2 separate regions of the Homo sapiens genome follow, and region 2 is linked to region 1. Evidence: fine-mapped expression QTL. A gene starts in region 1. The other region holds a variant in brackets. All regions are shown on one strand. Distances are between the middles of the regions.

Region 1 (2,911 bases):
CATCAACAGGTGGCATTTAGTGGTGGCTTGCTATGAAGGTGTGTCTAAGGTTTATACCATCAAGAGGCCTAAGCCTTGTCATTGATCCTCATTCCACTGTTAGATTCCAACCCCTCAGAACTTCAAACCTGCCCTGGGGCCTATACTACCTTCTCCACTATTACTGTCACTCAGTGTCCCCAGTCCCAGGGACCAAAAATAACGACTTAAAGGGAATAAAGAATTGGGCGTGTGTCTGAGGTGGCATCATGAGAAATGCTTTTGGCAACCTGAGTAGGAACTATCACATATAGAATGTTTCTGCAGGAAAATAGATTTTTCTAAAATCAGTATCATAAAGAAACTACTACAGCAAAACTGTATGCAAGAGAATACCTAAGTACTTCCTCAAAGGCAATAGGCTTTACTTCCACAACATCTAAGGCACTGCTCGAATGAATGTTTAATAACTATTACTGATTAAATGAATTTTCCATTCTCGCGCAATTTCACTGTTTTTCCTCCGTTCATATTTGACTGACTCCCAGCACACGACACACACAGTAAATGGGTCGGTAGATAAGCCCTACACTCCTGAACTCAAAGTGTGGTCCACGGACTAGCTGCACCTGCATCATCAGCGAGATTATTAAATCATAGCCTGCATTTTCAAAAACAAGATCCCCAGGTAAATCGCATGCACAATGAAGTCTGAGAAACGCTGCCTTAGAAGTTTGCAGTATTGCAATCCTTCCAATCCCCAACTCCAATCTCATCAGCGTGAGAAAAAAATGGAGCGCACACACACCGTGCACACGGCCAGCGACCAGCCCACGGTGGGGTTGGGACACCTGTCACCCTGTCCTCCCCAACAGTTCCCCATCCGCTCACCTTGATGCGCTCCCCATCAATCTCCACCGCTCGTTCTCGGAAATCCACCCCTATCGTGGCCTCGGTGCGGTCGGGGAAGCGGCCAGCGCAGAAGCGGTAGGTCAGGCATGTCTTGCCCACATTGGAGTCGCCGATCACGATTATCTTGAAGATGCGGGAGCGGGCAGGAGGCAAAAACCCTGAGGCCCCTGACACTGCCCCGCTGGACGAAAAGCTTGCCTCGAGCGACGACTCCATCTCCTCAGCCATTCCCCCGACCCGCCCCAAACTGAGGCGGAGGAAAGGAGACACAGAAAGGCTGAGAGATTACGCCACCGCAAGAGCGCGCGCCCAGCCGGCCAGTTCGGCTGCGCAACTTCCCAGGAGCCACCGCCCACCAGCCCCGAGCGCGCCTGCGCACCTTCCCGCCCCGCCCTTGCCCGCACAGGTGTGGCACCCGCCCGCCCCGCCGCACGGAGCCGCCTGCCCGCGGCCACACGCCAGGCGTCACTCGGGCTGGCGCCGGTCTACCTAGGCAGGCGTGGGACCTGTCGGGGGCTTCACGGCAGCGCGGAAGGCCAGCCTGCAGAGAGGCTGGGCCCAGCGCCCTGACTGACCCAGCCCCGCCACGTCCAAGGTTCCCGCCCTCTGGAGGAAGCCGCGCAATCACTCCGGGGGCGGGGAGAGACAGACAACTGAGAGGAAGGAGGTACCACGGGCACTCTCTCGCGAGAGGGCCGCAGAGCCGCCTTTGACGGGGGCGTGTACCTGGAGAGCAACGGTAAGGACGGAGCCGACGGCTCCGGCGTCGGGTCGGTTCCGGCATCGACGTATCGTTTGGTCGCCCCAGAGAGGAGACAGGTTTCTTCAGCTTGCCGCTGAGGATGTGGCATCGGCTGCGCTCACCGCCGCCGCCTCTGTGAACTGCGGGAGTTGGGACAGCGGCCAGGGCTAGATGGGTGGGACGCGAGTCCTCGCCGAAAGCTTGCCCTGTGCGGGGCGCACTTGGAGGCGAGCTCTGGGCCGTGGCGAGTTTTGCAGCCTAAGGTCTTGGCAGGCGCATTGCTGTGGGCTGCCGGAGAGCAGGCTGGAGTTCGAGACCGCCCACCGGAGAGCAGGCGAGAGTTCGAGGCCTAGGTACAGCGCATTTCGCTAGGCATCCCCAAGAATATCCGCGTGATCCTTGTGGCCAGAGTTTGTTGAGCTAATATCCCCAGCCCAAACAGTAGAGCACATCACATGTCGGCCACCTGGGAGCGTTGAACCTGGTAGTTACTAGGCGCCCCTGGTGGAAATAAAACTCATTATGCCCTAGTTATGTCTTAGTGCCTGGGTGACGATGATGTAGCGGTTAAAGATTAACTGAGCGCACTTAGAGGTTGTCTTTGTCTACCTAAGGAAAATATCAATAGATTAAACCCCCAACCTTAAAGAATCTCCGTGAATTTTTCTGAGGAAACGTGCAATATTGTCATACAAAAGGCCCCAAATATGCAAACATTGCTTTTTGTTAAAAGTTTGTTTTGTTTTGCAGTGACATCTGTTTGAGCAGATGAATATGCCATTGGGAAAGTCAAGGACTGTCGGAGAGGAGGACATGGCAGACCTTAACTAAAGTGAGGGGGACAGTAGAGCACTAAAAGTTCTAGGAAAGGAGATGAACTGCTTATTCCATCAGATGAAAATATAGTCAGAACAGATGAGTAGTAGAACTTAAACATGCCCGGAGTTGCCAGGAATTTGCAAAAGCCTTGATATAATTCCTGTTGCTGTAGAAAGACTTTCTACAGTCACTAATATATCAAGTTATGTTCACTAGAAAAAAAGTTTACTTAGTTTATAGAAATGGGCTGAAAAATCCTAATTACTTATCTGTGAGGTTATTTTCATGAAGGTTAATCATCCAGAAACTATTAGAGAGCCTCGGAATATATTTCTTCTAATCTGCTCTACCTATCCCATTCAAAGGAGGGAATCTGAAGATTTAAGGACAAAGAGCAGTTGAAAACTCAGAGCTGTGGTTAATGGGAGAATTTCAAGGATGGTGAAAAAAACTAACATC
Region 2 (2,911 bases), 26 kb before region 1:
TGCAACCTAGGGAGACCTCATCTCTACCAAAAAAAATTTAAAAATTGGCCAGGCGCAGTGGCTCACGCCTGTAACCCCAGCACTTTGGGAGGCCAAGGCGGGCAGATCACAAGTTCAGGAGATCGAGACCATCCTGGCTAACACGGTGAAACCCCGTCTCTACTAAAAAAATACAAAAAAATTAGCCGGGCATGGTGGCAGGCACCTGTAGTCCCAGCTACTCGGGAGGCTGAGGCAGGAGAATGGCGTGAACCTGGGAGGCGGAGCTTGCAGTGAGCTGAGATGGCGCCACTGCACTCCAGCCTGGGCAACAGAGTGAGACTCCATCTCAAAAAAAAAAAAAAATTAAAAATTAGCTGGGCATGGTGACATGCACCTGTGTTCCCAGCTACTCAGGGGGCAGAGCTTGGCGGATTGCTTGAGCCCAGGAGGTCGAGGCTGCAGTGAGCCAGGAGAGAAATGGAACATATTCTCTCTCACAGGCCTCACAAGAAATCAACACTACTGATACTACCAGCCTCCAGAACTGTGAGACAATACATTCCTGTTTTTTATGCCACCCAATTTATGGTACTTTTTTCCTGCAGCCTAGGAAATTAATACAAGAGGGAAGACAAAAATTGGGTAGGCAACCTGCAGTCTCTGACACATCTATTTAAAAAAATAGGGTTTATAATCATTCTGAGCAAACTATCGCAAGGACAGAACACTGCATGTTCTCACTCATAGGTGGGAATTGAACAGTGAGAACACTTGGACACAGGGTGGGGAACACCACACACCGGGGCCTGTCATGGGGTGGGGAGAGGGGGGAGGGATAGCATTAGGAGATATACCTAATGTAAATGACGAGTTAATGGGTGCAGCCCACCAACATGGCACATGTATACATATGTAACAAACCTGCACATTGTGCACGTGTACCCTAGAACTTAAAGTATAATAAAAAAATAATGTTTATATTTAGAGCAGATTTAGGGTCACAGAAAAATGGAACAGAAACCATCAAGTTCCCACAGAGCCCCTGCCCATCCACACATACACACGGCCTCCCTCACTATGTACATTTATTACATTTGATAAACCTACATTGAGACATCATAATTATCCAGTACATAGCTAACATTCACTTGTGTGTGTGTGTGTGTGAGAGAGAGAGAGAAAGAGAGAGAGAGAGAGATTGACAGGGTCTCACTATGTCCCACAGGCTGGAGTGCAGTGGAACAATGTCAGCTCACTGCAACCTCTGCCTCCCGGGTTCAAGTGATTTTGCTGCCTCAGCCACCCAAGTAGCTGGGATTACAGGCGCCTGCCACCATGCCCGGCTAATTTTTGCATTTTTAGCAGAGACGGGGTTTCACCATGTTGGCCAGGCTGGTCTCAAACTCCCAACCTCAAGTGATCTGCCCGCCTGGGCCTCCCAAAGTGCTGG[T/G]ATTACAGGCGTGAGCCACTGCATCTGGCCGAGAATTCTTATCTCAGGCAAGGTTAGTCTTTCTAATTATGACACAAAATGAGAGTCATGGAAAAGACTGCTAAGTTTCACTACATTAAAATTATTTTCATGCCAAAAACCATTAGAAGCAATGCCATTTGGCAAAAAACAAACTAGGAAAAAAAAATAAAACATCACTAACTTACCCAAAATATTCAGTATCCCTACAAAAGGCAAAAAAACAAAACCTGACAGAATGTGAACAGACAATTCAACAGAAAACAAAATGTAAACATTAAATATAAAAAGATGCTCAACCCTACTCATAAGATAAATGCCAGTTAAAACCACAGTGAGATATCATTTTTCACCTATTAATGTTCCTTCCAAATGTCAAAACCTTTGATAATAGACTGTGTTGTGAGTGTGTGAGGAATCAGGCATGCTTTTTATTACTAGTGCAACCTCTGAGGAGGGCGATTAGAAACCCAAATTGCAAACACAGATACCTTTCATCTAGCAATGTCACTTCTAGGAATTTTCCCTTTGTATATACTCACACATTTGAGAAATTACTTATGTAAAATGATATCCATTTTGGTAATGCTTGTAATAGCAAGACTGGAAACAACCTAAATGTTCATCAGTAGAGGGCTATCTAAATAATGGCCAACTAAAGGAATTCCATGAGACCTAAAAGAGAATGATGAAGCTTACATATTTTAACATGAATTCATCTCCAGGGTATACTGTTATGTGAAGAAACAGCAAATTCAGGGGCCAGGTGTGGTGGCTCGCACCTGTAATCCCAGCGTGGGAACTGGGGTGGGAGGCCAAGGTGAATGGATCACTTGAGCCCAGGAGTTCCAGAACAGCCTGGGTAAGATGGCAAAACCGTGGCTCTACAAAAAGTACAAAAAATTAGCTGGGTGTTGTGGCGTGCACCTGTAGTCCCAGCTACTTGGTAGGCTGAGGTAGGAAGATTGCTTTAGCACAGGAGGTGGAGGTTGCAGTGAGCTGAGATCACACCACTGCACTCCAGCCTAGGTTGCAGATTGAGACCCTGTCTCAAAACAAAAACAGAAACAAAAAAAATTCATGGTACTGGTTCCTTGTGATAAGAACTGAGGAGCTGGGAGAAAGAGTGGGAAGGAGAATTCACCATTTACTCTTTTGTGAATGGTTCAAGTATTGAACCATGTGAATGTATTTCCTATACAAAAATTTAACTTAAAAAAAGAAGTCCCATTACTGATCACATTTTATTGAAACATGGAACTCTCCATTTGCAGCAAGAAAAGATTAATAATGAGGAGCTGAGAAGTAATAAAATGGCTCCATATACTCTGTTAAGTTTATGGAATGAATAACCAAAACAAAAGTTGAATTGTTTTTGTAATTTAAAGAATGTTCTGGGACTCAAAAATATACAGAATCTTCTATAATTAAACTACTCAGAACAAGAAAAATACCAAAAAG

Alleles and levels. Alleles are on the strand shown, and positions count from the first base shown. SD is a standard deviation of normalised expression in the study named.
For the expression in tibial nerve of the gene that starts at base 1,274 in region 1, allele G in region 2 goes with a lower level than allele T (small effect, 0.34 SD a copy in GTEx).

What was found. PIP is the estimated chance that this variant, and not a neighbour inherited with it, causes the effect.
Region 2: its variant is fine-mapped to the expression of RAB33B-AS1 in tibial nerve (GTEx, PIP 0.90).

Annotation. Positions count from the first base shown.
Region 1 is chr4:139,452,404-139,455,314 of GRCh38, reverse strand. It overlaps RAB33B-AS1 (RAB33B antisense RNA 1), which reads left to right and starts at 1,274. Exons shown (of 1, transcript NR_159964.1): 1 at 1,274-2,911. RAB33B (RAB33B, member RAS oncogene family) reads right to left here and starts at 1,194. Exons shown (of 2, transcript NM_031296.3): 1 at 871-1,194. The coding sequence starts at 1,119. RefSeq lists enhancers at 897-946, 1,567-1,906 and a silencer at 1,167-1,496.
Region 2 is chr4:139,477,968-139,480,878 of GRCh38, reverse strand. No RefSeq gene overlaps it. Among named protein-coding and RNA genes, the nearest start is that of RAB33B, 25 kb to the right of the region's middle. The variant T/G (reference allele first, on the strand shown) is at 1,433.